4 separate regions of the Homo sapiens genome follow, and regions 2, 3 and 4 are each linked to region 1. The links come from fine-mapping of genetic effects on gene expression. A gene starts in region 1. Each other region holds a variant in brackets. All regions are shown on one strand. Distances are between the middles of the regions.

Evidence for each region. PIP is the estimated chance that this variant, and not a neighbour inherited with it, causes the effect. A credible set is the group of variants that fine-mapping cannot tell apart.
Region 2: its variant is the best candidate, but not a certain one, in a credible set for the expression of SLC5A9 in sun-exposed skin (GTEx, PIP 0.62).
Region 3: its variant is the best candidate, but not a certain one, in a credible set for the expression of SLC5A9 in sun-exposed skin (GTEx, PIP 0.62).
Region 4: its variant is the best candidate, but not a certain one, in a credible set for the expression of SLC5A9 in whole blood (TOPMed, PIP 0.75).

The regions. Positions count from the first base shown.
Region 1 is chr1:48,218,245-48,226,353 of GRCh38, forward strand. SLC5A9 (solute carrier family 5 member 9) reads left to right here and starts at 4,472. Exons shown (of 14, transcript NM_001011547.3): 1 at 4,472-4,654; 2 at 6,480-6,551. The coding sequence starts at 4,493.
Region 2 is chr1:48,193,858-48,201,966 of GRCh38, forward strand. No RefSeq gene overlaps it. Among named protein-coding and RNA genes, the nearest start is that of SLC5A9, 25 kb to the right of the region's middle. The variant T/C (reference allele first, on the strand shown) is at 4,005.
Region 3 is chr1:48,124,254-48,132,362 of GRCh38, forward strand. All of the region lies in intron 10 of LINC02794 (long intergenic non-protein coding RNA 2794), which reads left to right. It also overlaps the pseudogene SKINT1L. Among named protein-coding and RNA genes, the nearest start is that of LINC02794, 79 kb to the left of the region's middle. The variant C/A (reference allele first, on the strand shown) is at 4,357.
Region 4 is chr1:48,249,760-48,257,868 of GRCh38, forward strand. No RefSeq gene overlaps it. Among named protein-coding and RNA genes, the nearest start is that of SLC5A9, 31 kb to the left of the region's middle. The variant G/T (reference allele first, on the strand shown) is at 4,166.

The sequences.
Region 1 (8,109 bases):
TATTTGTTTCTTGCCACTCAAAAATTCTCTTTCATTCAGCATAATGTCAAGGTTCATCTCTGTTGTAGTATGTGTCAGCCCTGAATTCCTTATAAGGCTGAATGATATTCCATTAAATGTTTTGACTACATTTTGTTTATCCCTTCATTTGTTGATGGACATTTGGGTTGTTTGCATCTTTTGGCCATTAAAATTAATGCTGTTATGAACATGGGTGTACAAATATTTCTTTGAATCTCTGTTTTCAATTCTTTTGGATATATGCCCAAAAGTGAAATTGCTAGGTCATAGTAACTCTATTTTTAATCTTTTGAGGAACTACCATACTGTTTTCCATGCAGGCTGCACCATCCTATATTTCTACCCGTGATGCACAAGGTTTCCACTGTCTCCACATCCTCACCAACACTTGTTATTTTCTGTTTTATTGATAATAGTCATCCAAATGGGTACAAAGTGATATTGTATCACAATGATAAATGATTAGTGGTGTTGAACATCTTTTCATATGCATTTTGGCCACCTGTATAACTTCTTTGGAGAATTGTCTATTCAACTCCTTTGCTTATTTTTGAGTAGGATTGTTAGTTTCATTTGTGTTGATTTACTGGAATTCTTCATATATTATAGGTACTAATCCCTTATCAGATGTATGATTTGTAAATATTTTCTCCCATTCCATCGGTTGCCTTTTCACTCTGTTGATAGTGTCCTTTGATGCTCAGAAGTTTTTAATTTTGACGAAGTTCAGTTTATTTATTTTTTCCTTTATTGCCTGTGATTTTGGCATCATCACCAAGAAATTATCTCCAAGTCCAACAACATGAAGATTTTACCCTATGTTTTCTTCTAAGAGCTTTATTTTCTTAGCTCTTGCATTTAAGTCTTCAATCCATCTTGAGTTAATTTTCATATATGGTGCAATGTAAGGGTCCAACTTCTTTCTTTGGCATAGGAATATTCCATTTTCTCAGCATCATTTGTTGAAAATGCTGTCATTTTTCCACTGAGTGGTCTTCACACTCTTGTCAAGAATCATTTGACTGTAACTGTGAGACTTTATTTCTGGGCTCTCTGTTCTATTCCATTGGTTTATATGATTGTCTTTATGCCACTACCACACTGCTTTCACTACTGTAGCTTTGTAGTGAGTTTTGAAATCAGGATGCATGAAACCTCCAACTTTGTTCTTCTTATGTGTAGTATGTCTTTGTGCCTCAGTGGCAACTTCCATTTATTGGCCTGTTATATTTCTATACTTTTTTATGCATGGCTGAAACCATTCCCCTTCCCATAAAGCTTTCTCAGTCTCTCCAACAAAGGACTTCATTGATCCTTCCTCTGGGCTATCCAGCTAAAAGGAAGAAAGGGGTGGACAAAAGTGACCTATTTTGTGTCAAAAGCACCTGTCTTTTGACTGTCTGTATTCCCCACAAGGCATGAACAACTAAAGACATGTGTGCTCCCTGAACAGGGTCAGGGATAGGACAGGCCTCACTTCATGTAGGACTGACAGCATGAGGACATCCTTCACTCTCGGAAGCTCTCTGAGAGAATATTCTGGATAATTGAGGCCTCAGCTTTGAATGCCAACACCTGCCTAAAATGTTTGACCATTTTGCATGAAACTCTTCCTGCCTGGGTTTCATACTCCATGCCTTCTAAATAGAAAACTCATAATGACCACAGTCACCTTTCCTTGATGACTCTGGGTCATCCGTATGTGTGTGAATCTTGGCTGCTACTCAAGAATGCCCTTTGTTGAGAGTTGATCTACCCAGTTTTATAGGTCTGTTTGCCCCGATTTAGTCATCTTTTACATTGTCTTTCCTGGTCTTTCCAGGTTTAATGACCTCTCATGCACCATCAACCCATCAGCTGCCATTCTCCTTGCTGTCCCTGTGTAGCTTTGCCCCCTCTCTTCTAATTTGTTGTGAGTTGGGATATGAATAACAAGACTCTGGCTAAAACAAAAATAAACAGTCTCTGAGTGGGGTCACAAGGCTCACTGATAAGTCAAAGATTTAGGTTTTGGGCATGAGTTTTAGAATGTCTATTCTGGCTGTTTCAAAGCCTTTTTTGCTCCCTTCCTCATGCTCTGTTGGTCTCTGGGCTGCTAATGTGCCTGGTTAGCTTACAGATAAGTCTTAGATGCATTCGAGGAGAGGCTACTATAAACCCAAACCTGCTAGTTTTGGATTAGGTAAGTGTGCAGGGTTTGGGGGTCAGCCTCATGTATCTGTGAGGTAGATGGGAAGACAGAGCATGCAGGCAGCAGAACACTGTCCTAGTCCATCCCTACTGCTACAGCAAAACACCTAAGACCAGGTAATTTATAAAGTACAGGAATTTATTTCTCACAATTCTGGAGGCTGGAAGTCCAAGATCAAAGCCCCAGCAGGTTTGGTGTCTGGTGAGGGCCCAGTCTATGCCTCCAAGACGGCACCTTGTGGCTGTGTCCTCACATGGCAGAAGGTAAAAAGGCAAAAGGGCCTGGCTAGTTCCCTTAGCCCTTTTATAAGGTACTGATCCCACCCATGAGGGAGAAGCCCTCACGGGCTAATCACTCCTAAAGGCCCTACCTCTTAGTACTGTTGCATTGGGGATTCAGTTTCAACATGAATTTTGGAAGCAACACAAGCATCCAAACTATAGCAAACCCCAAGGGCTGGGTGAGGGGGCTCCTTGTGGGGAGCATAGAAAGAAGTACAAGACTCAGCTGTCTTCTCCCTGCGACATTCCTTTTCCCATCTCTGGAAGAGTCATCCGGATCCAGAGCCCTCACTATGGTGTGCTCAGAGGCCTAAGCTCAGACCACTCCTTCCCTGCTCCCTGATTAACACCCAGAGATCTGCCAGCCTCATTCCCCACTGTCCCTGTATCCAGCTCACCCCCAGGGACCACTGGGCACCTGGTCCATCACATTTTCCTGATGTTTCTAATGCTGCCCCTCCTGCATCCCTGTTCGTCTGATAAACTTGCCTTTAAACGTGTATATGAAGGACTCTTCCTCTGGTATCTAATCCTAACAGGTGCTAGATCCCACAGAGCCCTGTCCAGCTGGGGACTATGCTGACCTCTCTCCCAGATCAATATCCCTCTCCTCGGGGCTCAGCCTGGCCAGTGCCTGATGTTCTGGGATAGGAGAACTGGGGAGAGAAGGCCTAGGACCCTGCCTCTCACTTTTCTTTCCACCAAAAGGGGAAAAAAGAGGATCTGGTCCTCACACCCAGCCTTGGGATACTTATAAGATGCTGGGGATAGGGTGTGGGACAGGGCCAGTGAGAGCTGGGGATGGGGTGTGGGACAGGGCCAGTGAGATCTGTTTTCCTGCTGCTCCAGTCTGGGCCCTACAGCAGATGCATGCAGAGTAATATTTGTAAGACTGAAATATTCCAAATGCAGCTACTTTGGAAGGACCATGTGAGCAGATATCTAAGTGCGTGGCATCTGGGCCCCTTGGCTAGATGGTGGTCGATGTTGGTTTCTTTGTGTTAACCCCAAGAACATTCAGTAGCTCAGGGTTTGCAGAGGTTCTCAGGAGCACATCTTAGCCTCATTGGTGGTGTGAGGCAGGCAGGGCACAGGTCACACTGATGAGGACACCCGGGCCCAGAGACATTTAGCAACCTGCCCAAGGGCATCTGTAGTTCAGTGAGAGGTGGAGCTGGGACTGAAATCTAGGCTGCCTGAGTCCCAGAGATGGTCTTCCCTGGACCCAGGGAGCACTGTATCTTTTTCAGGGAAGGCCTCCTGACCACAACCATTTCATCTGTCACAGTACAGAATAGGAAGTATGGGTCAGGCATCAGAAGATGTGAATTCTGGCTCTGCCTTTTCAGAGATGGCCCTGCCTAGTTCCTTGGAATAAATGATGATGTCTTCCCCAGCCTCAGTTTCCTACACTATATAAAAAGAGAAAGCAACATCTAGGTAGGTTGGAATGGGAGTACATGAGGTGGTGGCCACTTTGCTAGGGTCACAGTAGACTCCTCACCTCCTTCCCCTTGTCTTCCTCTCACTAGGTAAAAGACAATTGTATTGAACTCTTAAGAAAATTGGACTCCAGTCCCGGCTCCACCTTTACTTCCCTGGGCCTTGGTTTTCCCACCACACAGGAGTTTGAACACTTTGATTTCTGAAGTCCTTCCCACCTCTGGGGTTCCAATATTCTGCTCCTTTTCTCCTCTTCCTCCTCCCCCTCCTTTCTCCTCCTGCTCATCTGGGGTTAGGGAGATTGCGTGTATGTGTGTGCCTGTGTGTACACATGCATGTATGTGTGTGCACGTAGTGGCAGCAAGGAAGAGGAAGGAAGGAGTCCTGCAGGGGTTGGTGGTGGCAGTTGGGAGAAAAGGAGGCAGGACTGTATGTGCCAGCAGGGCTCAGAGTTTTCTCACCAACTAATGGTGCTTGGGGCAGTTTAATCATTAAAGGAAAGGAATGAAGCCAGGAGCGCCTCAAAGTCCAGCCTGCTGTTGACCAACACTAACAGATGAGCAAGGAGCTGGCAGCAATGGGGCCTGGAGCTTCAGGGGACGGGGTCAGGACTGAGACAGCTCCACACATAGCACTGGACTCCAGAGTTGGTCTGCACGCCTACGACATCAGCGTGGTGGTCATCTACTTTGTCTTCGTCATTGCTGTGGGGATCTGGGTAAGTGGGCCCTGAGGCTGGGGCTAGCAGGGGAGGTAGTAGTGGTCTCTCAGCTTGGGTGGGGCTGTGGAGCTGGGGCAGGGCTAGGCAGAAAGAAGCAGATCATAGAACCATGTGGCTGAGAAGGAAGGGCCTTCAGGAATCAGGCTCCTGATCTCCTCATTTTTAGAAGGGCAGAGAGGGGTGTGGCTGGTCTGAGGTCACACAGAGAGTCAGAGGCAGACCAGGCCCCCGACTCCTGACTCCTCTCTGAGCACCTGCTGCCTTTGGCCCCAACCATCCCTGGTTGCCCTGAGCCTCACTCCTTCCTTCTTCCCACCCCAAGGCCCCCAACTCTGAGAACTCTTGACCCCTGGCCCTACCTCAGTCCTGCATTCGTTAGCATCTTGGCTAAGGTGATTTCTAAATGAGAAGGGGCTCATGTGCTCTCAGGGAAGTGTGCCAGGCTTATTCCAAGGTTCCTCTGTTCTCCATTGTTCCCAGGAGCCTCAGTGCTAGAGGCAGGGGCCAGGCTTTGGGGTCAGGGAAACCTGAGTTCAGGTCCCAGCTGCAACAATGAGAGCCTCATGTCCCTGGGAACATATGAGGCCTATCAGCTTTCTCAGGTGAACAATGAGAATAAGGACTATGCTGTGATCATTCAGCAACAGGACATACTGCAGCACCTGGCACGGTGCCTGGTGCCCGATCAGCAGGCAATAAATGGCTGCTATTATCACCACGCATTCCACAGAAGTGTGAGCACCTTTAGACTCTGCTGTGATTCAAGTCCCAGATGGTCACTTCCTAGGCTGTGGCCAGGTCAGAGACCCTCTCTGAGCCTCAGTTTCCTCATCTATAAAGGGGGGTGAACAGTCCCTGCCTTCTAGTGCTGGTGTGAGGAAGAATTGGGCTAACAGATGGTCACTGGCTCCTGGAAGTGGCCAGCCGAGAAAAGCACCAACTCCTCTGTGACTTTGGACAAATTGCTTCCAATGTTGGGCCTCCATTTTCACATCTGTAAAATGGATCTGTTTTGCTCGTATGGCCTCCAAGAGGATCAGAGCTGACAAGGAAAATACAAGCAAAAGCTTAACAAGCACAAGGCCCCACACATATTTATCACTCCCTCGTGACTGATTATTTTCCCTTAGGGGAAAGTCAGAGAACTGTTGGCTTTTGCATCTGAATAGCTGCTTCAAGTTCATCCTTCCCTACCCACTGCCCTGCCCTCACCCTGTATCTCCAGAGAATATTCCAACAGGCTGCTAACTGACCACCTACTGGTGTAAGACAGGGAGGTCCTGGATGGGGCTCAGTGGCGTGATCTGATTTCAACCCAGGGCAAGGGAAACTCCAAAACAGTACCCATAACTCTACTCAGGGCTCAAAGTCTCACAGTCAAACTGCAGCCCTCTCTGTCCTCCCGCCTCCAGTGTGGGAGCTCAGCTGGGAGCAGGGAGGGGATCAGCTCAGAGAAAGGGTGAGCACTACACATCTAAGGAGGTGATAACAAATCATACTCTGAAAGCGCACTTTGGGGAGGGAAGGATAAGGGGACAAGAGTGCACAATCAATGGCTTCACACACGTGACATCCGTTACCTCCTTTGCTCTTCGCACTGGCCCTGGGAGATGAATGGCGAGGCTCACAGAGAAAGTGACTCTGCCAAGATACATCGCTTAGAAACTGTGGAACCAGCCTCAGGCAGCTCTCTTCTGCCTCAGTTTTCACCCTCTGTGTCCCCACAGTGCCTGCACCGAGGGGAAGGAAATCTGCGGGGAGGGGGCAGGGCAGAGGTTCAGAGAGTCTTGAGAAATCCTCATCTCATCTATTTCCTTTCCAGTCGTCCATCCGTGCAAGTCGAGGGACCATTGGCGGCTATTTCCTGGCCGGGAGGTCCATGAGCTGGTGGCCAGTGAGTTGACCCTTCTCAACCACCCCTAGTGCAGAGGCTCCCAACTTTCTTCCTCCCCACTATCCAAGCACTTGTCCCATCTTCTCACACCTGGACCAAGGCAAAGACCTCCCCGTTGTGTTTCCTGACTCTGGGCCCCTTCTCTCCCGCCCAAACCCGCCCCGCAACCTGAGTGGTCCTGCTAGCACGCACCTTGGACAAACATCCCCTGGCCCCTCCTAGGTGTGGCCCTACATCTGGCACTTGACTTGCAGTGATGAATCTGGAATGTCCCTGTCCTAGAGAAGCTCAGAGCTGAGTGGGGCAGATAGATTCATAAACATCATGCGCACTGCTGAGCCAGAGGGAAGCAGGGGGCACTCACCAGAGCTTGGAAGCCCCTGACCACCAGACAGTGGAGTCAGCTAGGGTTAGGAAAGATTTTGGGGGGAAGGTGACACATAAGCTTAATATTGAAGAACAGTTAAGTTAAGGGAATCACAGAGGTAAAATCCCCAGCAATCTCAGGGAATCGATCCCCAAAACTTTGTGAGCCACAGTTTCTCCCATCAAGCCACACCACATTTCTAAGTTAGGGGAATCACAGAGGTAAAATCCCCAAAAACCTCAGGGAATCGATCCCCAAACCTTCGTGAGCCACAATTTCTCCCATCAAGCCACCTCACATTTCTATTGGTCCTCAAAATTAACTTCCTCCTCCTGGAATGGGATGGAGGGAGGAAAGCCCTGCCTCAAAAATTACCAGTAGAGTCATCAGCCCCAGTGGTAGCTGAAGCAGTATACACACCCAGGCATGCAAAACTCACACACGGCATGTGTGCATACCCACTCCCACATGCACACTCTCACACACTGACACACAACACTCACACTCACATACAAAGGCACCCACACATGTTCATACATGCCCGCACTCATACATGCTTGCAAACTCATGCACACAATCATACTCCTATTCTCACACTCACACCTTCTCTCACGCACTCACACTCTCACTCTCATACACACTGTCACAATCACATACACTCACATGCAGTCTCACACTCATGCTCCTTTACATACTTACACGTGCACACTCAGACTCACACATTCATGCGCACTCACACCACCAGCCATCTTCACGCCTCTCCCCACCCTTCTCCTTCTCACCACCTTCCCCACTCTCTAGTGGTCACAGACTCATTAAAGAGTAGCAGAAACACAGGAGGCCTCCAGGGCTCTCTGGAAGGTTTAGGTATCTGGGACAGGAAGAAGTAGGAGCAGGGAGCTCTTGTCTGTCCAGCATGACAGAATCCCCAGGGATGGCGGGGAGCTGGGCCTTGCAGCTCAGGAACAGTGGCGGGGTCACTGGTGCTACAGCCACCTTCTCATCAGGAAAAAGGAAAAACCCTTCAAAATGGTTCTTTTCAGCTAGTGCCCCCCAAATCACAGCCCTGGAAATGAAGGAAAGGAGGAGAAAGAAGCAGGACAGAGCAGGTTCCTCTGACCACTTCAGGAGAAGCCCAGGGGCCCTGCTGATTGTCTGGTCAACCCACAGAGAGCCGAGCTCTGGCCCAAC
Region 2 (8,109 bases), 24 kb before region 1:
TACCATCTGACCCAGCAGTCTCATTACTAGATATATACATGGAGGAATATGAATCATTCTACCATAAAGATACATGCATGCAAATGTTCATTGCAGCACTGTTCACAACAGCAAAGACGTGGAATCAACCTAAATGCCCATCAATGACAGATTGGATGAAGAAAATGTGGTACGTATATACCATGGAATGCTATGCAGTCATAAAAAAGAACAAGATCATGTGCTTTGTGGGAACATGAGCTGTTGTGGGAGCTGGGGCTATTATCCTTAGCAAACTAACACAGAAACAGAAAAAATAATATCGAATGTGCTCACTTATAAGTGGAAGTTAAATGATGAAAACTCATGAACACAAAGAAGGGAACAACAGACACTGGGGTCTGTTCGAGGGTGAAGGGTGGGGAGGAGGAAGAGGAGCAGAAAAGATAACTATATGTGTACTAGGTTTAATACCTGGGTGATGAAATAATCTGTACAACAAACCCCTGTTACACGAGTTTACCTACATAACAAACCGGCACCTAAAATAGAAGTTAAAAAAAAAAAAACTTGAAGTCAAAGAAAAAAAAACTGCCTTTGTAGATGATATGATTCTTTCTACAGAAAATCCCAAGGAATCTCAAAACGAACAAACAAAACCCTCGTGAAATTGATAAGTAGTTATAGAAAGGTTTAGGATACCAAAGTCAATTGCTTTCAGTTGTATCTTTGCAATTTCCTGTGAATGTATAATTATTTCAAAACAAAAAAAAAAGTCTTAAATGGAAAAATGACCTACTCTCATAAACCACAAATATATGTAATCTTGCTTGGGCTTGATAAATAAATGGTGATAACTTACAAAATGACAAGAAGAATTACTGTTCTCTTTTGGATTTATTGATGGGAGGTAAGCCGAGGAATCCACCAAAAACCTCTGGAAATGAAATAATTTATTTTAATATTAACTTATACTGAATCATGCACACAACTGTAGCCTCACCTTTCAAATAATATTAGTATTAACATTTTGGTATATTTCCATCCAGTATTGTGTGTGTGCTAAAAATTGAAGAATTCCAAAACTTTACCGTTCATGAGAATTACCTGCAGGGTTTTTTTAAAGACAAACCACTGGCAACACTCCAGAGTGTCTGACTCAGTAGCTCTAGGTGGAGTGCAAGAACTTGCTAACAAGTTCCCACGTAGTGCTGATAATATTGATACAGGGAACACATTTTTGGAATGCTTGACAAACACTATAATTCTATTCTCTTTTTTTACACTCCAGAATACATTATGAACCTGTTTTATTGTTGGTCTTCAAAAACATAATTTTAATAGATTTACAGGTTTCCAGTGTATTTCTGTCCCATCATTTATTTTTAAATTTGTATATTTTGTTGGAGCTCCAAAGGGGCAAAAATTATAGCTCCCCTTTTCTTTCAGTCTAAGTTTTGAATTAATTGAGAAAATAAAACTATATAGTAAAGCAGGAGATCAAAATATTACTTTTATTAAAGAACAAAACTCTGATATTGGGAAGTGTGTGCAGTATCTATGAGCAAGTCAGCTTCTGAATACTAAATCCAGGAATTAAGCAAACCTTCCCATTCCAGCACTGGAATTCTTGCACCACCAGGGATTCTCCCTGATGGCATATGCCCAAAGGCAGTTGGGGGCACACGGTCTGTGTGGGTTGCTTGACTCCCAAGAGAAGAATCCGTGGCTATCCCCATCAATAATAGGAAAACAGCAACCTTTCAGTACAGCTCTATTCCGCTTTCACGAGGCTATTCCACAGCACCATGGTTTAACACGGTTTAAAGTCACATGAGATACGACAGGTGAAAGAGCTAAGGACAAGCCACGCCAAAATATGCCGCTTTGACATATTAATTATTTCCAGCTGATGACACTTGAGAAACAGCAGATGCAGGAAGAGTCATCTAACGGCTCCTTTTCTACTGAAAACAAGCCACAGAATTTTCCATGAGAAAGATTCCCTCCCTGTGCCAGGAAGAGAAGAATACCCTTATCACCAGAGACTGGGAATCAATGCCGAAATGGATCTGTACAAACAAACATACTAAAATAACCCTTATCTTCCACTAGTTTTATTCCCTGCCCCACCACCACCATATATCTCCTAGTGACTTCTCCACAACTTACAGCTCCTAGTTCAAACCCTTTTGTCTTGTCATTTCTTCACAAATGTATTGTTGGGGCTCAGAAACAGATACCCCAAATTCAATGCGTTGACAGGCTGAACAGAAGAAGCCTCAAGGTTTCTCTGACCTTCTCCCTCTGCTGTCTCTCCCAAGGAAGGTGAAGTTCCTTTATCCATACAGTCTATTGTTTTTTTTTTTTGTTTTTTTTTTTCCTTTTTCTGGAGAACGGGGTCTCGCTATATTGCCCAGGCAGGTCTCGAACTCCTGGGCTCAAGCTATCCTCCCGCCTCTTAGCCTCCCTGAGAGCTGGGATTACAGGCGTGAGCCACCGCGCCCGGCCCCATACAGTCTAAAGATAGAGGAATTTCCTTTATCCATACCTACTTCCCCTTCCTGTAAGACCACAAATGTGACCACACCAGAACAGGCCCTTTCACTGTCAAAGAGAACTATTTACAAGTTACTCTCAGTTCCAGAATCCATTCATTCTCCTTCATAATCCTTTATTGCCCCTCAATGGAATTCCTCTTCTCACCACTCCCATAACCTGTTGTCAGGATGTTACATAAGCTTCTTAACCCCATTGCAAGTGAGTAGTCACCCTGTAATTCCCTCCATGTGCACTTTCTGTGCATGTTGCATGAAGGCAGTTCACTTCTTAAATTTGTGTGCATTTTATCCTATTAAGCTGTCTCATGTCGGTGATTTTTCAGTGAGCTTTCCCTACAGTATCATTTCTTTATTTAAATGATATAAAAGCTTTCTGTTCCAGTCACTCCTTCAGGTCTTTGTCCTCTTATAAAGATCCCCATATATGCAGTGGCTCATGCCTGTAATCCCAGCACTTTGGGAGGCAGGCAGATCACCTGAGGTCAGGAGTTTGAGACAAGGCTGGCCAACATGGCAAAATCCCATCTCTACTAAAAATACAAAAAAAAAAAAAAAAAAATTAGCTGGGCGTAGTGGTGGGCACCTGCAATCCCAGCTACTTAGGAGACTGAGGCAGGAGAATTGCTTGAACCCAGGAGGTGGAGGTTGCTATGAGCCAAGATCACACCACTGCATCCAGCCTGGGTTTGGGAGCAAGAGTCTATCTAAAAAAAAAAAGAAAAAAAAAGGAATAAAGTTTGCATGCTGTTCTTCTGTTAATCTGTTTTATGTCGGTTTCATTTTTGGGCCTAGCTAGAAACTCTAAGAGGATAGAAAATTTTTTCCTCTCCCACATATGCATAGGTTTGAATAGAATACTGCTCCTCAAGCTGATGAAACCCCAGCTCCTTTAGGGCTCTATGGGTGGATGTGTTCTTTATCATCCAATTATTAAGATTAAATTCCTGCAACTCAGATTGGGCCGGGCAGAACAAACGTGGCGATTGGCAAAGCACGTGGTTCCTAAGACAGCCTGGGAAAATTTCTTTCTCCCCCAGTCACATGCCCCAGAAACCTTCCCTACCTACTCATTGGCCTTTTATCAACATCAAAGCCTTCCCATCAGGAAGTAAAGATGTTACCCCAACCCACACAGAAGTTAAGGAAAGAGCAATGAAAAATGGATACTACATGCTTTTTGTTAACCTAAAAGGAAAAAAAAAAAGACTGAGGCAAAATTAATATAAGTAGAGAGTTTACTGGGGCCACATTTGAGGACTGAAACCCAGGACCATAGATTCAAGTTGCCCTGAATATACACTCTGATTGGCAACAGTTACAAGTTATTTTTTTGTTTTGTTTTCTTTTGTTTTTTGAGATGGAGTCTCTCTCTGTCACCCAGGCCGGAGTGCAATAGCACAATCTTGGCTCTATGCAACCTCCATCTCCCAGATTCAAGTAATTCTCCTGCCTCAGCCTCCCTAG[T/C]AGCTGGGTTTACAGGCACCCGCCACCACTCCCGGGTAAATTTTGTATTTTTGTTTTTAGTAGAGATGGGGTTACACCATGTTGGCCAGGCTGGTCTTAAACTCCTGACCTCAAGTGATCCACCCACCTCAGCCTCCCAAAGTGCTGGGATTATAGGCATGAGCCACTGCACCCAGACTCAAGTTGGTTGTTTTCTTTTGTTTTGTTTTTTCAGACCAGGTCTCACTCTGTCACCCAGGCTGGAGTGCAGTGGCGCAGTCATGGCTCACTGCAGACTTGACCTCCCAGGCTCAAGTAATCCTCCCAACTCAACCTCCCAAGTAGCTGGGACAACAGGTAAGCACCACGACATCTGGCTAATTTTTAAATTTTTGGTAGAGACAGAGTCTCACCATGTTGCCCTGATTGGTCTCAAACACCTGGGCGCAAGCAATCCACCTGCCTCGACCTCCCAAATTACTGGGATTATAGGTGTGAGCCACTGCGCCTGGCCACAGGTCAAGTTTTAAAGGAAAAAAGGAGGAAGTTTCTATGTTGTTTATCAAGATGTTCTTAAAATAACATAAGCTATTGATTGGCTATACATTGTTCTTTGTATCACGAATTTCAGAAACATGAAGATAATGAGTGAGGCAACTAGTCAGGAACAAAATATCTTTAAAAAATTGCCCCCAGATATAGGTGCAGGGTGGAGGTGGGGGTGACTGATGTCCTAAACTCTTGTTTCTCTGGGCCTGATAAGTCTTCTATACCTCACATGACTCAGACTGCTCTGAGTTATTTTTTCTTCTCATTTCCTAAAAGCAAAATCTGATGGATAGCACAAAGGTCTTGCAATCTAGAAAGAAAATTCAGCCATTCTTTCAATAATTATGTAACCACCCCACAGATTCTCCTTACCTACTTCCCAGATACAGCCAGTTTATCAAGACAGGGGAATTCCAATAGAGACAGAGTTTAATTCACGCAGAGCCAACTGAACAGGAGACTGAAGTTTTATTACTCAAATCCATGTTCTCAAAAATTCAGAGGCTTGGGCTTTTCAAGGACAGGGGAGGCAGGGGAACAGGTTCTGCTGATTATTTGAGGATGCAATCCTAGGGGTGTGGAACACGGTTGCAGTACACTGAGTCTGCTTCTGGGTGAGGGCCACAGGACCAGTTAAGTCCAGAGTCGTGGGTCCAGGTGGGGCCATCCAGTCATCATAAATGCAAAAGCCTGAAAAGACAACTCAAAAGGCCAGTCTTAGGTTCTGCAATAGTGATGTTATCTGCAGGAGTAATTGAGGAAGCTGATTTCCAGAATAATGACTAGTCATCATTTATACCTACATCTTAGCCGAATTCAGCCTCCTCTCATCCTCCTAACCTGATGGTCTTAGTTTTACAAAGGTGGTTTAGTTTGGGGAAGGGCTATTATTATTTAAACTATATACTAAATTTCTCCCAAAGTTAGCTTGGCCCAAGCCCAGGAATGACCAAGGTTAAGGGTAAGATGGGGGTTGATTAGATAAGATCTCTTTCTCTGTCATAATTTTCCCACTGTTATAGTTTTTGCAAAGGTTGTTTCAATTAGGGATTTTCTATGTGTCTGGCACTGTGCTGGGGATAATACAACGAGCAAACAAAGGCCAATCCCTGTTCTCTGGAGCTTGTGGGAAGAACACGGATCTTTGAGAGCTCAGAGTAAGGGAGTGGGCCCAGGAGAACTCACTGGCCAAAAGCAAGAGCATGTGCAGAGGTCCTGCAGTGGGAAGAAGTACAGGACATTGCCAGGAAATCTAAGACAATAGCAGGTGAAACATAGCAAAATAGAGGGAGATTTGAGGCAAAATGAGGCTGCAAGGCAGACTGGGCAGGGTCTAGTAGACTATGTTCAGGAATTTTAGCTTTATTCTGAGAGTTCTGGAAAATCACTGAAAGGTTTTAAGCAGAGTGTAAGATTTGGGAAGGACATACACAAATACTCATTTGAAACTATCTCTTTGGCTTGAGTGTGAGAAAAGATTGGAGAAGGGAGGAAAGGCCAGGTCAGTGACTCTGCCATCACCTAAGTAGTCAGTTAACAAACGCTCCATCTAGCCTGCCCCACACGTGCCTGCAACAGGCAGAGCAAAGTAAGGCAAACTCAATCCCACTCTCAAGCAGCTCAATCTTTTCTTCTGCCCACATTTGCCCCCATCCAGTGCTACTTTAGAGACATTCCCTTTTCTCCTTTCTTCTTATTTCCTCAGGGCTAAAGCCTGATAAATAGAGTCTGGCTTTCTAAGCAGAGATCTGCATTTAGGGAAAAGAAATAACACACAGCAACCCCACCCCTCAGTTTTACATTTTTTAACTTAAACAATTCTCTTTTTCCAGCAGAAAAGCCAGGATGTCACTGTTTATTCACAGCCAGGTCTCCACTCTGCACACTAAAAGTCACCGTAGTGTTTGCAGTCCTCACTCAAGCAGTGAGTGTAAAAGGAATTCCATCTGTCTCTAAAGATCTTTTGACAGGAATGAAAGACCTGTGAGGCAGTGGTTTATTCACCACAGCATCTTGATAGCTCAAGCTAAAAAAAAAAAAAAATGGCTAGCAGGCTGACATTACCAAAGCAGACACTACTTCTCTTTTAAAATTGGTTTTCCTGAGGCTAAATGCTAAACTTTATAGTTTTTGTAATTAAATATTATCCTGATAGAGTCAAATCAATTATAGCAGATAATAACTGCTTTGCTTTTGATTCTCTGGATAATGAATTAGTTGTCCTTACCAAATCTGATAGCCCTTTGGCAAATTCTTTATTCAAATCACTCAACACGTTTGTCAAGAAAGAACGTGGTTAAGTCCCTGGAAGCCTGCCTCCAGATTGCCATGGTAGCATCAGCTACTGCAGAGTCATCAAACATACATTTCTCCATATTTCCCTCAAGAGATTTTTGGAAAATGTCCTTTTGAAACACCAACATGAAAAGCTTTGACTGCTGGGCCCATTACATAATTGATGCCTAAGAACTACTTAATTGTTTGGTCAATAGATTCTCTTAGATCTGTTAATCAATTAATCTTAAAAACACAGGTAAAGCAGTAAGGCATGTCTCACATGACTTAGTCTCAACGAGACCCACTGGCTTCCATCACTCCCTGTTTCTTCCTCCAAGTAGTCGCAGTGGATCCTTTAATAACCTGTGAGTCTCCCTTGACATTCAAGCATACATGGGTGTATGTTTACACTCCATTTATTTACCCATCTCAAAGGGAGCCCCATTCCCTTCTGCCCCTCCTGCCCCTCCTTTCTTGGCTCTGCAGCTCTCCAGTTCCTATGGGGGCACCATAATCTTTCTCCCAGACTAGTGGTTTCAGTGATACTCTTCTGCAGACCAGGCTCTCTCTATTTTCCTACAAATACAGATTCCCTCTAGTCAGGCACCAGTCGCCTCTTCTTGGACCCAGCCAAGCCCATTACAAAGGAGAGACATGTCCCTCCTCAAATTTTGGTTAAATACCATGATAATGTGTTGAACATGCTCCCAGCATTTCTTACTCATTGACTGATACTGTCCCTCTGCTTGGACCCTATCTTCTCTTCTTTTTTAACAAAACCCCATTTATTCTTCCTGCCTAGCTCAAACCCAACCGTCTTTAGAAAGCCTTCAATAGTATTCTCACTCGATGAGATGTATTCTTCTTTAAAGCCTTACATCAGCATTGTAGGAAGGTTTTAGAGTCCGAGGCTCACCTAGATGGGCATCTAAATTCTCTGCCACAAATAACAAACCATTTGGCCACTCTGAGCCTTGGTTTCTTCAGCTACAAAATTGCATAGGAATTCTTTGAGGATTAAATCACATTTTAAAGTGTTTTACACCTGGCTAGCACTCAAAACTAAAAGCAACTATCGGTATTATTTATTTTGATCTCTTGCTGTAATTAGGCTCACTTTTATTATAGTGTTTATAAATTCATTTTTGCTTCCTCCTGCACTTCCTCCCCTTCTCCACTGTGAGAAACTTGGGAGACAACCTAACTAATCTTTAGAAGCCCAACCTCAAAAAGGGGCTAGGATGGAGAGCATTTATTACTAGAAAAACTGACATTATCTAGAATTCTCTGTTGTACAATT
Region 3 (8,109 bases), 94 kb before region 1:
AACACCCCAGTTTCAAGATTGTTTGACCCTCATTCCAAAACCCTTCATCTGAACTCCTTTGGCCACTCATTACCATGGCAATGTCCTATAACACAGTAGTTTAAGAAGAGCACATGCTCCTTAAAGCTCTTCACCCACTCACCACAAACACATTTTATACATTTCAGTTAGAAAAATGGCTTACTGAAGAAAAACATTGCTTGCCTATTTTTAGTTTTGTTTCAACTGCTTTTGAAGAATTTGTCATGAAATCTTTGCCAAATGGTACTTCATAAGTTTTCTTCTAGGGTTTTTACAGTTTTAGGTCTTATATTTAAGTCTTTAATCCACCTTGAGTTGATTTTCACATATGGTGAAAGGGAAGTGTCAATTTTCAATCTTCTGCATATGACTATCTGGTTATCCCAGCACCATTTAATGAATAGGGAATCCTTTTCCCATTGCTTTTGTCAACACTGTCGAAGATCAGACTATTTTGACAAAGTCTCCAAAAGCAAGTGCAACAAAAACAAAAATATACAAGTGAGACCTAATTCAACTAAATAACTTCTGCACAGCAAAAGAAACTATCAACAGAGTAAACAGAGAAACTACAGAATGGGAGAAAATGTTTGCAAGCCATGTATTCAATAAAGGTCTAATATCCAGAATCTATAAGAAACTTAATAAGCAGAAACTAAACAACCCCACTAAAAAATGGGCAAAGGAGATGGACAGATACTTATTAAAAGAAGATATACACACAGCCAGCAAACATATGAAAAAATGCTCAACATCACTAATCATTAGAGAAATGAAAATCAAAACCACAATGAGATACCATCTCCCACCAGTCAGAATGGTGATTATTAAAAAGTAAAAAAGTGGGCTGGGCGTGGTGGCTCATGCCTGTAATCCCAACACTGGGAGGCCGAGCTGGGAGGGTCACTTGAGGTCAGGAGTTTGAGACCAGCCTGGTCAACATAATGAAACCCCTCTCTACTAAAAATACAAAAAATAACTGGGCATGGTGTTGGGCACCTGTAGTCCCAGCTACTCAGGAGACTGAGGCAGGAGAATCACTAGAACATGGGAGGCGGAGGTTGCAGTGAGCCAAGATCACACCACTGTACTCCAGCCTGGGTGACAGAGCAAGACTCCATCTCAAACACAAAAACCCAAAACAAGTAAATGGATAGCAGGTGCTGGAAGCCAGTTTCTCTCAGAAAGAGGGAAGTTACAGACATACAAGTACAGAAGGCTAAAGTAAACTACATCATGTTGGAGTAGTGTTAGAAAAAAAAGTAAAAAAAAACAGATGCTGATGAGGTTGCAAAGAAAAGGGAATGATTATACACTACTGATGGGAATGTAAATTAATTCAGCCACTGTGGCAAGCAGTTTGGAGATTTGTCAAAGAACTTCAAATGGAGCTACCATTCAACCCAGGAATCCTATTACTGGATATATACCCAAAGGAATATAAATCATTCTATAATAAAGACATGTGTGCACACATTTATCTCAGCACTATTCACAATAGCAAAGACATGGAATCAACCTAGGTGCCCATCAGTGGTAGACCAGATAAAGGTAATGTGGTACATATACACCATGGAATACTACAGAACCATAAAAAAGAATGAAATCATGTCCTTTGCAACAACATAGATGCAGCTGGAGGCCAGTGTTCTAAGCAAATTAATGTAGGAACAGAAAACCAAATATGACATGTTCTCACTTATAAGGGGGAGCTAAACATTGGACACTCATGGACATAAGGATGGCAACAAAAGACACTGGGAACTACTGAAGTGGAGAGGGAGGGAGGAAGGCAAGGTTGAAAAATTGTTGAATACTTTGCTCACTACCTGGGTAACAAGATAATTCATATTCTGAACCTTAGCATTACACAATATATCCACATGACATACTTCTTTTCAACATATTAATAAAGGTCCCAGCCAGAGCTATTAGATAAGAAAAAGAAATGAAAGACACCTAAATTGGAAAGAATGAAGTAAAATTATCTGTTTGTAGGTGACATAATCATATATGTAAAAACTCTAATGACTAGTAAAAAAATTTTAGAATTAATAAATTTAGTAAAGTTGCAGGATTCAGATTTTACATACAAAACACACTTGCGCTTCTATACACTGACAAAAATTGACACATAAAAAATTATGAAATAAAAGCCCATTTGAAATAACATCAAAAGGAATAAAATACTTAGGAATAAATGTGACTTGGAGGTAAAATATTTATACCTTAAAAAGTATAAAGCATTGATGTGAAAAAATTAAAGAAGATCTGAGTAGCCAAAGCAATATTTAGCAAGATAAAAGCTGACATCACACTCCCTGATTTCAAAATATAAAGATACAATAATTAAAACAGTATGGTACCACCATAAAAACAGAACATATAGACCAGTGGAACAGAATAGAGACCCCAGAAGTAAATTTACACATTTACTATCAACTGATGTTTGATAATGATGCCAATAAAAACAATGTGAAATGGAGAGACTCTTCAAAAAATGATGTTGGAAAAACTATTCCTGCATGTAGCATAAGTAAATTGGACCTTTATCTCTCATCATGTACAAAGATGAACTAAAAATGGATTAAAGGCTTAAATGTAAGAACCGAAACCATAATACCGCTAGAAGATACTATAGGAAAAAGCCTTTTGACATTGGTCTGGGCAATGATTTTTTAGAATGACATCAAACACAAAAGCAACGAAAGCAAAGATAAGTAAGGCTACATCAAATTAAGAAGCTTCTGCGCAGCAAAGGAAATAATCAAATGAAAAGTCAATGTATGGAATGGAAGAAAATATTTGCAAGTCACATTTCTAATAAGGGATTCGTATTCAAAATATATAAGGAACTCATTCAACTCAAGAGCAGAATGCCAAAACACTCAATTAAAAAACGAGTAAAGAGCCTGAATTTATATTTTTCAAAAGAAGACATGCAATTGGCTAAGAGGCGTATGAAAAAGTTCTCAATACCACTAATCATCAGGGAAATGCAAATCAAAGCCACAACAACATATCATCTTACACATGTTCTAATGGCTATCATAAAAAAGAAATAACAAATGTTGGAGAGGATGTAAAGAAAATGCTTGTATACTGTTGGTGGGAATGTACCTTGGTACAGCCATTATGGAACAGTATGGAGGTTCCTCAAGAAATTAACAATACAGTTGCCTTATGATCCAGCAATTGCACTTCTGACTACATATCTATCCAAAGGCAATAATACTGGTATGTTGAAGAGATATTTGCACCCCCATGTTCACTGCAGCAGTATTCACAGTGGCCAAGATATGGAAAAAAATCTAAATGTCCATCAATGAATGAATGGAAAAAGCAAATATGGTGTATATATATAATGAAGTATTATTCAGCCTTAAAAAAGAAAAAAATCCTGCCATTTGTGGCAACATGGATGAAACTGGAGGACATTATGCTAAGTGAAATAAGCCAGTCAGAGAAAGACAAATACTGCATAATCACATTTATATGTGTAATTTCAAATATTCGAGCTTGATATATCAAACTGAATTTTGTAAGGTGATCTTTGAGAGGGGATTTCCTTCACTTAGGAGTTTGACTGATACTTTGGTGTTCATGCTGCTGTTTATGGCTGCAGTGACTTACCTTGTCTTGTCTTGATGCTGCTGATGTGACTCACCCACTGTGAGTGAGCTGGTTGCTACTTAAGCTCTATCTTGCTGTCTCAGAGGCAGAGGGTAGAATGGTGTTTGGCAGGGGCTGGAAAGAGGAGCAAATGGGTTGATGTTTGTCAAAGGGCACACATTTTCAGTGATGCAAGATAAGTAAGATTTCGAACAATGTAACTATAGTTAGCAATGCTGTATTGTATACTTGAAATTTGCTGAGAGGGTAGTTCTTATGTGTTTTTATTCACCCAAAAGAAAAAGATAACTATGTGAGGGGATTGATTGAGGTGATTTACATGTTAGTTAGCTTGATTGTGATGATTATTCCATAGTATATATGTATACCAGAATGTCAAGTTGTACACCTTAAATATACACAGGTTTTATTTGTCAATTATACCTCAATAAAACTGTAGAAAGTACCAAATTGAATTTCGTAAGGTTATCTTTGAGAGGAGATTTCCTTCACTTAGGAGTTTCACTGATACTTTGATTTTCATGCTACTGGTTTATTGCTGCAGTGACTTGCCTTGGCTTGACTTTACGCTGATGTGAATCACTCACTGTGAGAGCTGGTTGTTACTTCAGTTCTGTCCTGTTCTTTTCTCACCTCACAGCAGCACTGGTTACCAAGGTGGTGTTTCTGAGAAATTGGAGGGAGCAAGGAAATGTTAAAAAT[C/A]TGGATTGATTAAGTCATATTTGGGCGATTAGTCTAATACTTCTCTTCCAACTGGGCAGTGGCAGTCCCAGGTTCTATTCCGTAATTTAAAAAAATCTTATTTTCCTATTTTATTGACTCCTCTTTTGTGTCAAGAAGGGAAGTTTGCTGCTGGCCAGTTTTAGGAAAGTTCATTAAGATAAACATCTTGAGTCTCATAATTAGTTTAGAGGCAGATAGATCCTGGGAAAGGCAGATAAAGAAAATAAGTTTGCCTTCTCTTTTGTCAGCTTGGTTGTAGCTACTAACAGAAATGGAACTTAGGGAAAGTATGTCCACATTCAGAATAAGAGCAAAGGATACTAATTTCTCTTTAAGACAATGAGACAATGATTCGTCCTGATTTTTCCTTATGATCAGCATCATTTAAACTGATCTTCCTCAGATTTATAGTGCTGTCTTCTTCAGAGGCTTAGTGTCAATGGACTGCAGTATGATGATGTGGAGGCAGTTTATGACAGAAAAGACACATTTGTACTCTACTAGGGGGCATCTGTCTATATTATAAGGAGCATGTTTCTTAGAATAGCAAAATTTCTGGTCAGCTCTGATTGCCAGTGTTTCAGCTACACATTTTTATTTTTACTTGATCCCCCAAGAGAAGGTTATGTGGAGGATGCTTGTAATTCCTCCTCAACAAGAGGGAGAATAGGCATAGCTGCTACAGTCCTCTTTTCAGTAACTAGTTATAAAGCTATAAATAACAGTTACACTTAATACTCCCTGCTCCAGATTCCCTTTTCCCTCAGCCATTCCTCTCTATGTTGGGATTATTTTTTTATCTGGTAAAAAGACTCAAATCTGAATTCCTAAAGCATCTGAGTCTTTAGCGACCCTGCCTTCATTGCATCCCTGTGGTCTTTAATTAATATCTGCTACTGAACTTGAAGTAATTACATGTTTCTCAGAGAACTCCTTGGATTTTAGGCATAATTCTCTCTACCTTGATGGTGTTTATTTCCACTTGATAGCTGGAATCAATCCCTTTTTATTGACCAGTTGATTCAGTGGCACTGGGAGCCTAACTTGGCCAGGTGGCAGTCTCAACTTCCATGTCACCAGGACAGATGTTGCCTACTTATGTGAAGTCACTCCTTTCTTGGGAAGCCTTTTAGACTGACAGACCTCAGACTCGTGGGAGTGAGAAACAAGAGTATATAATAAATAGATTGTTGAATATGATAGTAAAAGAAACCACTCCCACTTTTATCTCTCTAGTCTTGAAATTATGCATTTTGGTCATGAAACTAAAAATCACCACATATAAGTCATCGATCCAAATAAAGGACTGCATTTTATGGGGTTTTTGCAGCCTTGCAGATGGTGCTTTTCAACTAGCAACATGTTTTTAGTAGGATATTCCAATGATCCAGATGAACAGCTGCTTCTATATAAAGAAATATATATATATATATAGTAATATTGGTCAATTCCCTAAGTAAGAGCTCTTCACTGTACTTTTTTTTGTGGCAAAATTAGTTCCTTGATCAGAAACCATTTTGCACAGAATAGCATAATGACAATACAAATGTTGTCATATGTCTGTGCTTGACGATGCTGGCAGAAGCGCTGCAGCCAAGGAAGGCATAGTCACATATAGGATAATTGTCTAATCCAGTGGAAAAAAATGCTCTTCTCTCTCTGGTGGAAGAGGTCCAATATAATCAATCAGTGGAGAATGCGTGCCAATCTGGGACTTAATATATAATCACTATCATTGACATTTGGGTAATGAGTTGTTTCAGCAGGCAGAGAAGCTGTGGGAAGAGAAAATCCATTTTGTTGACCTCATGCATAACCTCTAGCCCATCACCATGGCTGTTTTGTACATGAGTCCATTAAACAAGCACCAGAGTTGCTCAAAGAGTGACTGACATTCACAGGATGGGGCACCTTGTGATTCGACCATAGAAAGCTTCCTCTCCAATAGGCAACTTTGTATAATGATGTAAATAATTCATGACTATATCATACTTTGTGCTCATTCTGAAAGTTATATTAACACGTTTCCCAGACTTCATTTACTAACCTTTCAACTTGATTTATGCAAAGATTCTGACCAGCTGACAAACCCATCAGCTCATGTTAATGGGCTAGTGTATATGTTTATGGTCAATTAGTGTCTTATTATCAGGCATCTCTTTTTATTTGTATAAATTTATTCAGTACAAGTACAATTTTGTTACATGCATAGATTTCATAGTGGTGAAGTCAGGAGTTTTAAGGTATCACCCTAATAAAGTACATCATAATCATTAAGTGATTTATCATCATCCACTCCCTCCAACCCCCTCACCCTTCTGAGTCTCCATTGTGTATCATTCCATACCTGATGTCCATTGGTATACATTATTTATTAATAGCTCCCACTTATAAGTGAGAATATGTGGTATTTGTCTTTCTGTGTCTGACTCGTTTCACTAAAGCCTTCAGTGTCATCCATGTTGCTACAGAAAATGTGATTTCATTATTTTTTTATGGCTGAATGGTGTTCCATTTTGTATATATGCCACATTTTATTTCTCCAGTCATCTGTTGATAGACACTTAGGTTTAGTCCATACCTTGGTTATTGTGAATAGAACAGCAATAAACATATGAGTGCAGGTATCTTCTTGATATATAGATTTCTTTTCCTTTGGGTAGATACCCAATAGCGGGATTGCTGGATCAAATAGTAGTTCTGTCTTCAGTTCTTTGAGAATTCTCCATAGTGTTTTCCAAAGAGGTTGTAGTAATTTACATTCCCGCCAACAGTATATGAGCTCCCTTATTCCTGCATTCTTGCCAACATCTGTTATTATTTTTTTATTTTTATTTTTTTGAGACAGAGTCTCGCTTTGTCTCCCAGGCTGGAGTGCAGTGGGGCGATCTTGTCTCACTGTAACTTCTGCCTCCCGGGTCAAGCAATTTTTCTGCCTCAGCCTCCCGAGCAGCTGGGACTACAGGCATGCACTACCATGCTTGGCTAATTTTTGTATTTTTTGGTAGAGATGGGGTTTTGCCATGTTGGGCAGGCTGGTCTGAAACTCCTGACATCAGGTGATCCACCTGCCTCAGCCTCCCAAAGTGCGTAGTAATAGCTATTCTGACTGGGCCAAGATGATATAACATTGTGATTTTAATTTGCATTTCCCTGATGATTATTGATGCTGAGTATTATTTCTTATACTTGTGTGTCTTCTTTTGAAAAATATCTATTCATATCCTTTGGCCACTTATTAATGATATCATTCATTGTTTTAGTTGTTGTTCAGTTGTTTGAGTTCCTTATATATTCTGGATATTAGGCCCTTGTCACATGGATAGTTTGCAAATATTTTGACCCATCCTGCAGATTGTGTCTTTATTCTGTTGATTATTTCTTTTGCTGGGCAGAAGAGTTTTAGTTTAATAAAGTCCCATTTGTCTGTTTTTGTTTTTGTTGTATTTGCTTTTGAGGACTTGCTCAAAAATTCTTTGCTTAGGCCAATGTCTAGTAGAGTTTTTTCTAGGTATTATTCTAGGATTTTTATTGTTTCACCTTTTATGGTTAGGTCTTTAATCTATTTTGAGTTAATTTGTGTTACTGTTGAGAGATAGGGGTCCAGTTTCATTCTTCTGCATATGGCTATCTAATTTTCCAAGTACCATTGATCGAATAATGGTGTCCTTTCCCCAGCGTATGTTCTCATCAAATTTGTCAAAGACCAATTGGCTGTAAATGTGTAGCTCT
Region 4 (8,109 bases), 32 kb after region 1:
TGAATAAGTGAAAGAATAAATGAATGAAATGAGTGAGTGAAAGGGCACCCCTAGCAGAGGAAACCAAAGATTAAAAAACACAGAGGTGGGAAAAATTATGACATAACTAGGAACAAAAATAGTTTTAAATGTCGGGAGTGGAAGATACACGTGGACAGGACCACTGCTAGTCCTTATGCTTCATTGTGAAAGTGAGCAAAAGATGCCTTTCTTCTTGGCAGATACAGATCCTCACTATAGGGTGACAGGTGGCAGCCAGAGCCCACGCTCACTTCAGCTCCCACATGCCCCTATTGTCCAGGTGTATTTGTGCAGGGCACCACCTGCACATCCATGAGTGTTAGGCCTGCATGTTGGGGAATGGGTGGTGCAGTGACTGGGAGGTAAGCAGGTGATAGCTCAGGAAGGAAGGTCCATGCTAAACTTGGGACTTCATCTCTTACCTGGATCATTTCAACAGCCCTTTGACTCTTATCTCTCTTCCCAGTCTCTCTTCTTGCAATTCATCCTATGCACTATAGCAAGAATGATTTTTCTAAAATGCAAGTATTGTTCTATTTAAGACTCTCCATAGATGGTGTTTTCCAGCTTGGCATGAGATCCTATGAAAATTGCTAGAAATATATCCCAGGGTTTTGTCCTTGTGCCCCCTTCTGTACTACAGCCAAAGACAGGCTGTTATGTGCAGTGGTTAAGAAGACTGCAGGGGCTTGAAAGACTGATCTTCTGGAACCAATTCCTCATGCTGTCATTTTCTAATGACAAGATATTGGAAAAGTTGTTTAATTTCTCTATCTATCTTTTCTCATCCACAAAATGGAGACAGTAATAGCAGCTACTTCATTGGGTTGATGAGAAGATTAAATTAGTTAATTCAAATAAAGTATTTAAAATAGTGCCTCACACATAACTAAAGTACTTAATAAATGTTAGCTATTACTGAGACAGCCAGGTGGGAAGGGCTCCCTGGCAAAACTCCAACTGGCCTATGCACTGAGAGGAGTGCACACTGGGATGGAGCCACAGACGTTCGTGCCATTTGCAGCAGGGAGGAGCCTGGCCTCTCCTCTCCTTGGGTGGAACCTGGAATTCAATCTGTGAGGTGGGAATCCTACACTAGCAGGAACTCTGGCCTTGAAGTGAGTTCCTGTTCCCCGTTTTTTCCTTTTTGCCCAATAAATCCCATTATTCTCACCCTTCAAATCATCTGCAAGCCTAATTTTTCATGGCCATGCGATAAGGACCTGGCTCTTAGCTAAACTAAGGAAAACGTCCCACAACATTATTACTGCTATTAGTAGCAGGCAAGATGAACACATAAGGAGGCATGACACTACATAGCAATGTTATTTTAGATCTAGCAGAAAATGCTGTCAGAGAAAAGAGCAGGGAGGAATTAGTTCTATCAGGGCAATCAGGAAAGGGCATAACATAAAAGTGCATAATGGAGCTAGAGTTTGAAGGAAGAATGAATTGGAGTTTTCTAGAAAAAGTCATACAAGGTAGTGAGGCAGCATGTGCTAAAGGGTTAAGGTACAAAAGTGCACAATGAATTCCCATAAAATAGGGATACTATTTATTCATTTGCAAATGTCAACCCTGCATATTTAATTTCCCCTTATAAATCCTGTCTGTATTTAGCCTCTTGCCTCTAAGGCAGAGCTGTGAAGATTACTGACCAGGGACTGAAGATAATGGGCATTGCACCACTGGGGCAGAGGCTGTCAGTCTCCTTGCCCACATCCCCTAGGTCTCAGCAGTGCTGTTTACTGTGACTTCCTGCTGAAAGCCCCTTCACCTCTCTGCTGAGGGCTTTCTCTGACTGTAGAAAAATGTTCGGTCCCCTGCATACAACAAGCTAGAAGTGCTTGGAGTTAACACACCTGGGAGCAGCCCTGAACCAGCGACAAAAAAGAGTTTGAGGATAAGCACTGTCAGCCCCTTGCCCTGAAGTGGGACAACTTGGAGCCTTGCTCTAAAATATCTTTCAGAGGGACAATGAGGCGCAGCTACCCACCGTGTTAATATGTCCATTAACACACCCTGCATAGCTCCCTTCCCTTCCCTGTCTCATTTCCCCATTTCCTTGGAGGTGTTTCCTGGGATCTCCTCTGAAATAAACCGCTGGCACCTGGTTTCATGTGCTGCTTCCGAGAAACCAAAGACAGTTTTTTAACAGGAAATCAGGCTTTGAAGTTGGGCTTTGTGGAGAGGGAAAAGGGCAAAGTCTGGAGGATTTTGACCATAAAGTCTTACCCACAGGGAGAGAAGCTCTCCTGTCTAGTATCAAGTCTTAGCCCTGCTGCTGGCCACAGGAAGTGGGTGCTGAAGGGAAGGTTTTCAGGCAGAGGGAACAGCCCATACAAAGAGATCTATTAGGTTATCTCCAGTTTTGAGGTTTTACAATCAAGATTTCTTTCATTTTGGCACTAAACACTACAAATAATGTCATGGGCCGCACCCTGTTCCAGGCACTAGGGGTACCATGGTGTTCAAGCTTTGGTGCCTTCTTAGCTCTCAGCTAGACTCAGTTCTCTGAGGAACAGGATGTTTCTCCTTTAACTCTTATGATACAGTAAAACAGCCAATGTGGTGGAAAGAAAAGAACCCTAAGCTGAAAGTCAGGAGACCTAAGCTCCATTCCCAGAGTGTGGGGGAGAGTCAGAGGCAAACAGTGAATCACTGCAGTGTAGGAAGCTCACAAGTCAGGGTCAGTCCTAGAAGGGACCTCAGTGACCAGCTAATCAGACCCCCATATTTCACAGAAAGAGACACTGGAGACTTCTAGAAGGGATGGGACTTGCTTAAGGCCATGCAAGGGTTCAGCAACAATTATCCAGGCCCTTCAAGATGAAAAGTGTTTCAGGGGTAGTGGGCAAGCCAAGAATGACATAGGAGGGGCTGGAGAAAAAGGCATGTTGAGGCCTATATTACCACCAAGCCCTGGGCAGGTCTACTGAAGGCACACACATCACACACACATTTACATTTTCGTTAATGTGTCTGTCACACTTACCATTTGAAGGGGTCTCCAAGGTCCTCTCATTCAGCCCTACTTCCCCTATCCCATGCCATTGTTCATGTCGCTCCCTTTGCCTGGAACACTTACCCTTGACCTTCTACCACCATTGCCTATCTCCTACTCACCTCAGGAATCATTTCCTACTAACTTTTCATGCTACTTCCTCCACTCACCCAAGTTGGTTTTGTGTCCTTCCTCTGAGCCTCCACAGGCCCCTGTGTTTCTACTATAGCAAGTTTCATGCAAGTGTTATAATTATTTTCATCTCTTCTTTGCCACAGACTGGTGCTCTTTGAAAGTAGGTGTGGTATTCATCTAGGGGTTGCATTGTTTTAGGACATTTAGTAAGCTCTTCATAAATGTTCAATGAATGAGTGAATGAATGCATGTTCAATTTACTCCATCATATTTTGGCTCTGGATTCCTTAGTTCTTAGCCACAATCAAGAGAAAGAATAATAGACAATATCTGTACAATCTGTACAGACTTTGGAGTTACAAAGTCCCGCCACGGGTGAGGTCTCATTAAATCCTACAACTCTTAGAGGTAGGTAGACAAGTTTCATCTCCGTTTCAGAAAGGCCAGTCAACACCCAAATGTGAGCTTCAGGACAGCCTGTAAAAATTAAAAAGCAAAGCAGCCTCTTTTGCCTCCAAGTTCCAACAACCCCCTTCACATTCAGAATGTCCTCAATGTATCTGAGGAATCTCAGATGGTAGCATTCACCATTTGTGCCTCAGTTGTTCCAGTCTCTAATGTGGACCTTCAGTCTCATTGACTGTAATGCTCCTGTGGCCCCTTTCCAAACCTCTCATCTTTGCCATGCTTTCTCATTCCAGCAGGACCTTGTTCTCAGGTTGATCTCTCCATCACTACCTGCCAATATGTACATATGAGATGTCACCCGGCTCTCTCTATATGTATATATTTCAGCAGGGTTCTTAGCCCCTCATTCAATTGCAAGATGATGTCAGGCCTTCTACCAAGTCACTTAAAAGGAAACTGCCTGTCCATTGGGTCAGTTGTCAGTCACCACAGTGAGAGCTGTAACCACCTCTCTGAAACCTTTCAGAGCCCCTACCCCAACTCACCTCCAGTCGGTGCATGGGGCAGTGGTTAAAAGTACTAGATAAGCAGGTAAAA[G/T]ATTTGTATCCTAGCTTAATTTTGTCATTACTTGCTTTATGACCCTCCCTAGCCATCCCTCAGTTGCTTCTTCCTTAAAAGAGGAGAGGCGCAAAGGCTTGAATTAGATTAGATGAAATCTATGGACGCTTCTCATGTTGACATTGTGTGCTTCTAATTTGTTTCCACAGTTTGTCTCCTTGGGGCAGGAAGTGGATGGATTGGTTGGTGGTAGTGGAGGGTATACAGGGAAAGTCATATGTCAGCTTGAGAGGCAACAGCACAAATAGAAAAACATTGCAGAGTAGCTTTCAGAGAATTGAAATGGGTTTACCATGAGCAATAATAACATTAAGAAGCAGCTTTGAACTGTGAAAGGATGGTGTTTTAAAAAAAAATAGCACTCTTAAAAATATCATGAAGAAAATGTTTTCTAAAGTGTTTTTGTTATTGAGTTTGGACTACAAAAGCACTCAATTTAACATGAGAGACTCGTAACCATGTCCTTGGGTGTGAGAGTTCACATCAGTCAGAGGGGATGGAAACTGCTAGAAGCCCAGGCAAAGCAGTGTCAGTTATCCATTAACCTAGAATGAGTGTCTGTCTAGATTTCTAGCCTTAAGTAAGATTACTGTAATTTCTTTTTTTCTCCAGGGTGAAAATTTGGGAGAAATTTAAAGGTTATATATAAATGTAAATCCTACAGGCTTAAATTAAGGTAGTTACAGTTTACTTTCATATTTCAAAATCAAATTTCAGCTTCAGCCCAGACTCACAAAGTAGAAATGTCAGACTTTTTACTGTGGTCTTATACAAAATCTACAACTTTCTCTTAAAGAGGAAAAAATAAAACCCAACCTTTATACCTTATCTCCTGAATAGACTACAAAAGCAGCATTGGTCTCTCTCTCAGTATGCCTTGTATGTAAATTTTAGGATTATAAACATTCAGAATGAGAAGGAACCTCAGAGTCAGCTAGTGCAGCTCTCCTCCCTCTTCATTCTGGGTCAGAATTTATCTGAACAGTCTCCCTGACAGGTAAACTTAGCCAGCCCTCTATTAGAACTTGCTAATTGGCAGGGTGGTCCAGAGATGGAGCAATGATGACCTCCTGAGAGCATTCATTACTGGACCACACTGCCAATTAGAAAGTTCTTCCTTTTGCTAGCTAAATTCTGCATCCCTGAAATTTCTAACCACTTAAGCAAACAAAGCAAACATCAGGTATTCCAAAATTATATTTCCACTATTTATGATTTCTTCTTAAAGGAATGATTCACAAACTGGGAACTTCCTATAGAATAGTAAATTTATCTGGGATGAGAAGTACATGAAGACTAGTAAGACTGATAATTTTTAAAATCCTCGCAATTATTTTATAAAGAGTGCTCCCACATTAACCATCTCATTTAGTTCTCAACACCAGTCTAGGACTGATGAATGAAGAAACAAACTCAGAGAGGTGAGGTAATGTGGCTGAACTGGTCTTTAAGCCCAGATTTCTGACTCCACATTCAACCCTACCCTCATTGTACTACTACTCACTCATGCAGCATTCTTCATGAATGTTACAGTTTCCAGGTTCATGACATAAATATGGAAAACAGCTGCAATCTACGCGGAGGTCAGTTGAATAAAAAAGGCAGGCAAGTCAGCAAATTATTGCAGAACAATTAAGCACTGAAATTCTAGGTGGGAACAAAATACTTCAGAAAAACAGAGAAAGGAGCAACAAATTACCTCGTGGAAATGGGGAAGGCTTCATGGGAAATAATGTTTAACTTAGATTTAGACATTTAACTCTACTTGGAGTGTAGAGATTTCTGTGTAGACAGACAAAATGATTATATGAGAGACAGAAGAAACTGCACAAAGCAAGACAAGTATGTAAAAGGCCATGGCATCTCTAAGGTAGAGTGAGGTACCTTTTGTGGCTGAAGCACAGGGTCTGTGAGAGTGTAACACAGATGACATTGGAGAAGAGGTAGAGGTGAGCCTAGGGACACTGGGTGCCACGGTATAGCCAAGAATGGGACAGAGTCAGGAAGGGTAAGGGCAACTAATATATACAAAGAGCATCTTATCTTTAGAAAGATCATTCCAGCAACAGTAAGAGAATAAATGATAGAGCCAGAGGCTGCTAAGGGATGGCAATTTTTGAGGTTGTTGCAGTATCACTGAAAAAAAGAAAGGAAAAATCCATCAGTAGATAAAGGGATAAACAAAATCTTATACATACACATAGAATACTATTCAGCCATGTAAAAAGGACAGCTAAATGATATCTCGTGGACACAAAGAGGGGAACAACACACACTGGGGCCTACTTGAGAGTGGAAAGTGGGAGGAGGGAGAGGATCAGAAAAAATAACAATTGGGTACTAAACTTAGTACCTGCATGATAAAACAATCTGTATAATAAACATTCGTGACACCAGTTTACCTGTGTAACAAAGCTGCACATGTATCCCTGAACCTCAAATAAAAGTTTTTTTAAAAAGGAATGAATTTTTGATATATACTATAACGTGAATGGACCTTGAAAACATTACATTTACTGAAATAAACCAGACAGAGAAAGGCAAATATTGAATGATTCTACTTACATGAGGTCCCCAGAATAGGCAAATTCAGAGAGAGAAAAAGCTGAATAGAGGGCAGGGGAAGAGTAGGCAAGGGGGAGAAATTGTTTAGTGGGTACAGAGTTTATGTTGAGGATGATGAAAAATTTGGGGTATAGATAGTGGTGATAGGTATACAGCATTATGAATGCTGTACATTATGTACATTATGAATGCTGTAACCAAATGTGTACATTTGGTTAAAATTATAAATGGTTAAAATTTGTATATTTTACAATGGTTAAAATTATAAATATTATGTTATGTACATTTTACCACTGTTTAAAAAAGGATTGATAAATTAATACTGTACTAAAGCAAACACATCAAAATGTTAATTGTAGAATAAAAAATTATGGAAGGAAGAGCATGGAAGATTAATTTGGCTAAAGAAAAGAATGTAAATGTTACAACTTTGACAACATAAACATGTAGTTGACAAAAGATAGAATTGAGAGGGCAAAGACAGAAGTGTTAATATCTGTCTTCTTACAAAGTAGGTAGTCAACAGATTGTTGAAAGTAGGTGGAGCAAGAAATAGAGGTTTAAGTCTGTTACTGAAAATTACATATGTAATCAATAAAATAACTAATAATAACATGAATATCAAACACTGGGAAAAGAAGGGAGGAAAGGTAGTCAACATTAAATTTTCATCTTTCATAGTAGAGATTGTTCTTGGCTTGTTGAAGTCAAGATAAAAGGTATTATATCTACATAATATCAAAAGGAGTTGTGGAGGAATCCACCAGAATACCTAGGCAGACCATTCACAGAAGGTCATCCCTGGGTACCTGCAGGTATGGGGTAAGAAAAGAGAATATCATAAGCTGTACTACACTATTTGCAACAACATACTATTTTAACTTTTAAAAGTTAGTACAATTACAAAAAGATAACCTCCTTTGAATGAGGGCCTGAATTAGGACAGTAGCCGTGAAGGAGGGGAGAGGACTGGAGGAGGGGAGAAGGCTGCTAAAAGGCATTCGTGAAGTTAAATCTGCAGGACTTACTGACTCTGGGGGGATGGAGAGAATTAAGAATAATTCCCAGGCTTTAGATCTAAAGAGTAGGTACTCTAATGTATTAAGATGTGGAAAGCAGGTTTGGTCTTGAAAGAAGAAATTATGAGTTCAGATTTGAGCACACCGACTTGGAGGTACCCATGGGATATCCCACTGGCATAGCCAGATAGTTTTTGTATCTGTGAATCTGGAGCTTGATAAACAGGTTAGGGCTGTACACCTTCCTTATAATTACTGCTTGGGAAAAACACTAACTCTTCATAGGCCTAGTATTAGATCTATGGTTTTGTGTTGGGAATGGTGGTGATGTCCAGTGGT